Linked DNA regions of Homo sapiens. The gene in region 2 interacts genetically with the main gene of each other region. Each region holds a gene or a part of one and is shown on either strand. Other genes may lie near its edges.

What was found.
Region 1: changes in RAD54L (region 2) and PFDN5 together harm fitness more than expected from each alone (negative genetic interaction), as found in Homo sapiens cells (one study listed by BioGRID).

Annotation. Positions count from the first base shown.
Region 1 is NC_000012.12:53,294,134-53,298,557, reverse strand, and holds the start of PFDN5 (prefoldin subunit 5), read right to left. Parts: upstream 3,017-4,424; 5' UTR 2,991-3,016; coding exon 2,919-2,990; intron 2,720-2,918; coding exon 2,617-2,719; intron 2,315-2,616; coding exon 2,283-2,314; intron 709-2,282; coding exon 634-708; intron 514-633; coding exon 408-513; intron 1-407. UniProt on the Homo sapiens protein: Binds specifically to cytosolic chaperonin (c-CPN) and transfers target proteins to it. Binds to nascent polypeptide chain and promotes folding in an environment in which there are many competing pathways for nonnative proteins.
Region 2 is NC_000001.11:46,246,143-46,250,737, reverse strand, and holds the start of RAD54L (DNA repair and recombination protein RAD54-like), read right to left. Parts: upstream 2,976-4,595; 5' UTR 2,333-2,975; coding exon 2,330-2,332; intron 2,227-2,329; coding exon 2,140-2,226; intron 739-2,139; coding exon 619-738; intron 1-618. UniProt on the Homo sapiens protein: Plays an essential role in homologous recombination (HR) which is a major pathway for repairing DNA double-strand breaks (DSBs), single-stranded DNA (ssDNA) gaps, and stalled or collapsed replication forks.

The DNA.
Region 1 (4,424 bases), on a different chromosome or scaffold from region 2:
CTTCCCCTCCTTTGACTTCCAAGTTGATTTAGTCAATCTGGAATGGGCCCAAGCTTTCTTTTTAAACTTCCTGAGTGATTCTCATGTGCAGTCGGGGTTATAATTGCTGGTATTTAGTTCGTTTGGATCATGATTCCTTCCTGTGTGTTCATCTCATTCCCCCATTCCATCGTCATTAAATAGGAGCTCCACCAAAGCACAAACATGATTTCCTTCCTCTAAATTTCTCAAACGCTCAACCCAGGAATCTACAGATAGTGATTATGCAATACACAGATTCTAAAGATGCCAAAGAGAAACTAAGACATAGTTTTACTCCAGCAAAGGGGACACCCCCGTGGTTCACACTGCAATCCATGTTCCTTATTATGGAGATAGGGTCAAGAGGTGCCCCAGGAAAAACTTACCCTGTTTCATGGCGTGCTTCTCCTGAAGAGCTGGTTGGATTTTCTCCATCTGCTTGGTTAGAAAATCTATCTTCCTCTTGAAGAAGTCCTTGGCATCCTCAGCTGTCTACAAGATCAGAGGTGAATAAGGGGCTAAAAGGAGACTCCCTCTGGCCATGCTGCGCTCTAGAGCTTCCCCTGAATTTCCCTTCCCTGTTTAGAGGGGCATCCACATGCTCTCACTCACCTTCTCTACATAGTACCCAGTTCCCACATCGATGAGCACGTGTTCCACATCATGCAGCTTCCCAGGGACATACATCTGAGAAGCAAGAATTAAGGGAAAAACTAGCCAGCCCAGCATGAGCCATGATTCCGCCAGCCAGCCTGCTTGGCCTCCAAAGACCCTCTTTTTCCAAAAAGCTACAAGGCATAAGGACTGAATAATCTGGAGGCCTTAGAACAATACCTATAACTCCAAATGGAAAGAAGACAGAGAAGTTGGTTCTTTAAGGAGAAAATGATGTATGCTGGAACACCCTCTTGTCCTGCCTCATCCCATCTCTCACTCTCTAAGCAGTTCTTGCAATTCTTCCCATTAGCCCCTCCAGAAAGACTAGACATGTTTTCCTACTGTTGTAGAGTACTACAAGTAAAAAGCCAGCCTCATTTCCCTTAATGCCCTCAATCATGAAGTAGCTAATTCCTGACAAAGTCAATGTTTTGTTTGTTTTTTGCTTTCTGAGACAGAGTCTCGCTCTATCGCCCAGGTTGGAGTGCAATTGCCCGCTATCGGCTCACTGCAACCTCTGCCTCTCGGGTTAAAGCAATTCTCCTGTCTCAGTCGCCGGAGTAGCTGGGATTACAAGCATGTGCCACCACGCCTGGCTAATTTTTGTATATTTAGTAAAGACAGGGTTTCACCATGTTGGCCAGACCGATCTCTAACTCCTGACCTCAGGTGATCTGCCAGCCTTGGCCTCCCAAAGTGCTGGGATTACAGGCGTGAACCACTGTGCCTGGCTAATTTTTTTTTTTAAACCATTCCCTACTACACACTACTATTCCTGTGTTCCTTTTAGCCTGTCAGTTCTGAGACTACAGATTAAAGATGCCCTACTGCCATAACTTGCTCATTCAAATAAAACACTGAACAAGTGAACACAATCCAGGTTTCTTAGTGACAGTTTAGAAATGAGCCACAATTAAGCTGAAGTTGAAGATTAACAGAGCCAAGCTCCCTGTTTCTATATCCTCCTATTTTTGTCTATTGCCTGTATCTTCTAAGATATTAGCAAAGTGTAAACCACCAGCTTTATCTCCATATTAATGTTCTCAAACAGCAAAGGGAAATATTACATCTCAACTATACATACTCCTTGGTGTTCACAAGACATTAGCTGGATGTTGGTGTGAAGTCAGATAAAAGAGCTACAAAGTGTGTAATAAGAGTATTCTTGGCCGGGGGCAGTGGCTCACGCCTGTAATGTAATCCTAGCACTTTGGGAGGCCGAGGCAGGCGGATCACGAGGTCAGGAGTTCGAGACTAGCCTGGCCAATATGGTGAAACCCCCAACTCTACTATTAATACAAAAATTAGCCGGTCGTGGTGGCGCGTACCTAAAGTCCCAGCTACTCGGGAGACTGAGGCAGAAGAATCTCTTGAACTCGGGAGGCGGAGGTTGCAGTAAGCCAAGATCTCACCATTGCGCTCCAGCCTGGGCGACAGAGCGAAATTCCGTCTCAAAAAAGAAAGAAAAAAAAAAAGGGTATCCTCAAAATCATTGTGAGGAGAGGGTAATCTGAAGTAATCAAAACAATCCCCCTCCCCGCTTTTTGGGGGAGTGAAGGAGAAAGGGAGAAGGCAGCAGGTAGCCGTTCCTGTGGAAAGGATACAGAACTCGTCAGTGGGACGAGTAATTCTTTCCCTGTGAAAGCAATGAAGACAAACACCTGGGGAAGGTTAGCGGCTCCAACGTAAGACGTTAAAGAGAGTTCCAACAGGGCACAGCACCCACAGACAGTGTGAAAAGAACGGAAACAGGGGCAATAGGAGCAGAGGAATGTCCTGTACTTTTCAATTCTAGGCAGGCAACATGCAAAGGGTTCATGAAGCGGTATACGATATGTAATGGATTTTCTCGTTTCAGGTAAGAAAAACTGGGTTAGGAGGTGGGACGAGAGAAGCAGGTTCGCCACTTTAGGTTACCCTCACCCGCCTACCCCATACCCTCGTTGCTCTTGTTCAGCACGTTCAGACAGTCCTTGGCTTCCACATACTTGGTCTGTACCACTTTGAGCTGAGCAATGGACGTGGACAAGAACTCCACTTCCTACAGAGGACCGGGATAGCGGGTCAATGAGAGGACTAAGGGGAGAAAGGAGCGCGGCCGGGGAGGGGGCAGGTCCTGGGATCGGATAGAGGTTTCGCCTGGGAAAGGTAGGCTGCCAACTTGGAACCGGGCGCGAGAAGTACGCGTGGGCAAGGGGGATGTAGAGCAGGAAAGAGGTGCCTCTGGGGCCCGTCCCCACCTGGTCCAGCTGGTTCTTGAGCATTTCTAGCTGCGGCAGATTCAGCTCCGTGATGTTAATAGACTGCGCCATGTTGGGAAGGCCGACTTAACGAAGAGGAAGTCTCTCGGCGAGCAACGCTCTAGCCGTCCTCTGCGCGTCTCGGTGGCGCCGGGAGGCCTCGCTGCGCCAGACAGCTCTATGATCCTCCGTCCCGGAAGGGAAGGAGGGGCTTGAGCCTCTCAGAGACTGTTGTGTGAGTTCATTTCATAAAATGTCTTAAGCCTAGTATTGTAAAGTAGCAGCAAACAGGACTCCTGCCTACAAGGAACTGCAAAATCTTAAAGTTCTCACGACACAACCACGATATTACAAAGTAGTGTATGCTACTCCACGTGGGTGGTATAAGCTACTGGAAAGCAGGCTGGATTGCCATGGCGACGGCTCGGGGGCCTGGCCCTGCTCCTCTCCACCCCGCTTGCTATTGCTGCCTGCTGGTACCCCGCCAGGCCCGATTTCAAATGTTCCTCCCAGCACGGCATGGAAATGGCAGGGAAATTCTAAACTCTTTTTCCCAGATGGCCTCTGAGGCCGAAAGGCAGGAAAAAAAAAAAAATCCCTTGTCAGACCGTTCTGAATTGTCCTTGGAAAAAAACAGGCATTAGATTGAAAGCTTGTCGAAGGCAGGAACCAACCATGTTCTCATCACTGAACCAATTCTTCCCCTCTCGCTATAACCATCTTCCCCCAGCCGGAAGTAGGCTGACACGTAGTAGGATCTGAAAAAGGGTTTATCACCCGTTGCCAGTGAGGTGGTGGGAGAACAGCAAGGAAGCGCCATTGTCAACCAAGTACAGCACAAATTAATCAATAAAATATTTTGGCCGGGCATGGTGGCTCACGCCTGCAATCCCAGCACTTTGGGAGGCCGAGAAGGACAGATTGCTTGAGCCCAGGAGTTTGAGACCAGCTTGGGCAACACGGCGACACCCCGTCTCCACAAAAAATACAAAAATTAGCCGGGCTGGTGGCACACGCCTGTAGTCCCAGCTACATGGGAGGCTGAGGTGGGAGGATCGCTTGAGCTGGAGAGTTGAGGCTGCAGTAGGCTGTGATTGTGCACACTAGCAACAGAGCTAGACTCTGTCTCAAAAAAAAAAAGGTTTTACCATGTGCTGTATGTGAGGGATACGTGAGAGTGTAAGATACTTGCTTCCCTTGAGCTTAACAATTGGAGAGAAAAACCACACTAGAACTCCACAGATCCACAGACTCTACTGCTAAAGTTACACATTGGTAAGTGTAACAGGTGTACATGGGCAGACAGCAGTAGCCTTTAACATCTACTTAGGAGGCAGGCAGGGCAACTGAGGCATTAAAACTAGTGCCATGGCTGGGCGCGGTGGCTCACGCCTGTAATCCCAGCACTTTGGGAGGCTGAGGAGGGTGGATCACAAGGTCAGGAGTTCGAGACCAGCCTGGCCAATATGGTGAAACCCTGTCTCTACTAAAAATGCAAAAATTAGT
Region 2 (4,595 bases):
CTTCCAAAGTGCTGTGATTACAGGCGTGAACCACCCGACCCGGCCACAAAACCGTTTTTAAATGTTTGCTGAATGCACAAATGACTAATCTCCATTATGTATTCCTACTTTTCCTTCAAAACATTCCTCATAAAGCTTAGTGGAAAAGCTTTGGAGATAGACAGATCTGCTCCACCCACTCTGAGCAAATTACTTAACCCTTCTGAGACTGTTTTCTCATCTTAAAACGTGAGAATTACATGAGGCAATGCACAGAACCTGCCATGGTGGTGATTAAGTTTGACTTTACTAGAGGAAATACATGACTCTGGTACACCTTAAAGTCATATACAGAGTCAGAGTCTGAGCTGACATGAGGATCCTAGTTCCTTTACCCTCCTTTCCTCAGGAATCTGAACCATCTGATATCTGGTGCCCATGTAGCTACTATAAACCAGGCACAAGTCAGGCACACCTCTCTAAGCAGGCCCCAGCAGCTGTGGGCAGGTCCAAAGCCCCTACAGATGTGTGTCTTCTGGCCACTCTAGAAAGCACTGAGGGAGTGTACAGGGACAGGAGTCTACCTAGGCTGAGTGACTGGGCACAGACATACACATGCAGGTTGCAGTTCTGGCTTACATGCTGACTGCTGTCCAGACAAGGTGGTTGATTGGTTAGCTGACTCAAAGGTTTCCGAAAAGGAGACAGGAAACACTCCTGGATCTGGGTCTCACTGCTGGATTTCCGTTTCCTAGGAGTCTAGGAGAGAGAATTGGGAAAGGTGAAGTCTAGAAGACCACAGAAATCACCATAATGGCAACTAACACTTGAAGTGCTTATTAAGTGCCAGGCACTGTGCTAAATTCTTCACACATGTCATAGTGTATCATCTTCATAGCAACTCTATTATGTAGAGTTATTATCCTTATTTAAGAGGTGAGAAAACTAGAGCTTAATGAGATTAAATAACCTGCCTAAACTGAGCGGGGCAATGGAAGAGGTAAATAAAATGGGCCTCTGAAGAGCAAGTCTACCAACAGCATGGAGTCCTGGTGGCCCAAAGCTTCACTCCAAAAGCTCCATGGAATGATGGAGCAACCAAACATTTCGCTGAGTTTCCAAGAGGCAAGAATACAGCTGCCTTCAACTCCCAGGCCACTGAGGCCACTCCCCACTCAGGCCACCCATGGCTGTGAGGACACTGGCACTAAAAGCATCTTCAGAAGCAACCAGCAACTGACAGCAGACCCAGATGCAGAGAATGCTGCCCCAAGTTCAAGTCTGAGACCCATGTACATGGCAAGGGTCAGCCAATGTGCCTCCTTCACAGGTAGAGAAGCCCCTTGCACACCACGGTACAACTATTGAGCAAGCCCCATCAAGCCATTAGGCAAGAACACACTTGTACCAGCTTGCCAGGATATTTGAAGCCTCAGTGATCCTGTAAGACACACCTGAAACAAACACCAGCACCCCTACCCCACACCTTATTCACACACTGCTCCTGCCAAAAAGTGCCTTCTAGTCCTTGCGTAGCTGATCCCTTCCTTCAAAGTTCCAGTGGCCAAGCCCCCACTTCTTGAACTGCTCTTATTCTCTGAAGTCCATGCTGCACTGTCCTATTTATTTTGGTTTACATAGGTCCTGCCCACAGCCAGCCCCAACAAGCCTCCAAAACAGGAAGCAGAGCCCAGGGCCCAACCTAAAGTAGAATATACTGTACTTGAGTATGAGCAAGGACTGGAAGGACACAACCTGTCAGATCTAGGCCCAAGTGAGCCCAGGACTCCAAGGTAGGCCCAGAACACTCTACTGTTCTGTGACACTGGGCAGGGGACAAAGAGCAAAAGAGCCAGCTGCTAATTGCTGTTGTGTAGCCCTTTTTTCCAAGCAGAGTCAAAAGGTCCAATCCAACTGGCTCTTTTGCTTATCTTTTCCCACCAGGAAAACTGAGGCTATATTAGCTTCTAGTGACTACCCTGAGGATAAAGATTTTACTAATCTTGTTCAATGCCTGGCACATAGTAAGTACTCACTAAAAGTTTATTGAACATACAAAAGAGGCATCTGGAATTGGCTATGTAACCCTAGAAACCAAATCCTGGCTTCTTTTCTGTCCAAACAGCTCTACCCACCTTCCCTGTCCCCTTGAGTGCTCACCACTAGGCCAGGTTGCCAGTCTTCATCATCACAGGACCTGCCTTCAGGTTTTCTCTTGGCCAGCTGGCTGGGAGCCAAGCTCCTCCTCTGTAAAGGGAGAACAGAAACAGTGCCTGCAAGGATCCTGCAGCCTAGGCCTACTAGACCCTGACCCAGGGCTATTCCCAGTCTCCCCTAGGCCCACACTTACCATCCTGGGCCTAGGAGTTTAAAACGTCAAGTACCCATGAGCCAAAGGTCAAAAGCAGGCAGCGGCTAAGAGTGTAGGACCAGGGTCTAATCTGTAGAGGGGGCTGCTACATTATTGAGAGGACCGGCTAATTAAAGAGGGGGCATGGATGGCGGGAATCCATCCAGGAACTGGTGTTTGGAACCAAACTGTGAGAGTGGCCGTCCCCAATAAGCCGAGACGAGAGATTAGGCCAAAGAGGAAGAGACCAAGCAGAGATTAGTGTGGGATTGGGGAGGAGGCAGGTGGAGTCCCAGACTGGGCGGAGTGGAGTGGGGATGATGGTCCCAGTCCGGGTGAAGGGAGGAGGTAGTTGCGCGGCGGGGCGGGGTGGGATTGGGGGTGGGTAATCACTGGCCAGGAGAGAGAAGCTGGGGTGAAAGTCCGAGGCCCGGGTGGGGAGGGCGAGTCTGGAGAAAGGAAATTTCCCAGGGCTGGAGGTGGAAACCAGGATCAGACTCAGGGAGGTCGAGCAGGAAGCCACGCGGGCGTGTAAAAAACCCAGGTTAGGAGGGGAATACCAGGAGGGGCTGAAAAGAGCGACAGAGATAGACGCAGACCCCAGCACCTCTCTCTCAACCTTCCTGTTCCCAAAGCGCGCGTTAACAGCCGCCAAGACTCACCGACCCGCCAAGACCGGGTCAATCGAACCTCCCGCCGCGCTGCCGTCGTATCACCCATTGGCTGCGTTCGATGAGTTCGGCGCTCGCGACCCAAGGAAGAGGCGGGAATAGTGCTGCGCCCAATGAGGAGTCTGGGCTCTGGAGCTGGAGAAGCTAAATTGACCTACTAGGAGGCGTGACTTAGATGGGAGGGCGGGGCCAACAGAGGTGGGCGGTTGGGCGAGAAGAGAGGGGCGGGGCGGGGGCGGGGGTGGCGGGGGAGGGGCGGGGCCAACAGCGAGGAGCAGTTGGGCGAGAAGAGCGGGGCGGGGCGAGAAGAGCTGGACGGGGCGGGGAGGGGCGGGGCCAACAGTGGGGAGCGGTTGGGCTAGAGGAGCGGGGCAGGGCTAGAAGAGCTGGACTGGACGCGACGGAGCGGGGAGGGGAGGGGCGGAATTACTACCTGCGAGCTGGAATTCGGCCCGTCTCGGGTGTTTGTCCCAGGTCGGTGAGCTGTGGTCCCGCAGCTATGGAAGGGAAGATTTACGCCACATTGAGCAGCAGGGGAGTTACCACCTGTAGTGGACAGCTGGGGATTATGAAAGGCGGCACATTTCTGGGAGTTTGGATTGAATCTACAGTGGTACCAGGTCTAGAGCGGAGGGCCGGGGTTGGAGTCAGGCCTCGCCCACCCAGAAAGTGGGGAGAGGCATTCGGCCCAGACTGCCACGTGGCGGGCTCGGGCAATGGGAGCCCCCGGATGACGCGACTTTCTCGCTCAGGGGTGTCTTGAAAGAAGCTGCCTTCCTCTCCAAGGCCAAACCGCGTTGGAGGAAGCGTTGTGTTTGGAGTCAGAGATTTAATCATCCAATCTCTCAAAACGTCAGTTTCTTCATATCTAAAGTGGCATTATAATAGTACCTCCCCCCCATGGCTATTCTGACAAGTAAATTAATGTGCGTAAAGCACCCAACAGTGGCATGCACAACCTAGGTACTCACTAATAATGATAAGGGTGTATTTATAGCATTTACCACCAGGCATTTCTGAGCTTCTAAGATATAACAGTTCATGTAATGCTCATGACTATGAGGTAGGTTTATTTTTGTCCCCATTTTGTAAGTGAGGAAACAGGCCTAGATAGGCTAGTAACTTGTACAAGGTCACACACCTGAGTATAGCTTAAGCCATCCTCACAGGGTTATCAAGAATTCTGAGGTCAGGCATGGTGGCTCACACCTGTAATTCCAGCACTTTGGGAGGCCGAGGCAGGAGGATTGCTTGAGCCCAGGACTTCCAGATCAGCCTGGGCAACACGGAGAAACCCCATATCTACAAAAAAATTAGCCAGGCATGGTGGTGCACAGCTGTAGTCCTAGCTATTGCAGACGCTGAGCTTGGAAGCATCGCTTGAGCCTGGAAGGTCAAGCTGCAGTGAGCCAAGATCGCGCCACTGCACTCCAACCTGGACGACAGAGCAAGACCCTATCTCAAAACAAAGAATTCTGGGCCGGGCGCGGTGGCTTACGCCTGTAATCCCAGCACTTTGGGAGGCCGAGACGGGCGGATCACAAGGTCAGGAGATCGAGACCATCCTGGCTAACACGTGAAACCCCGTCTCTACT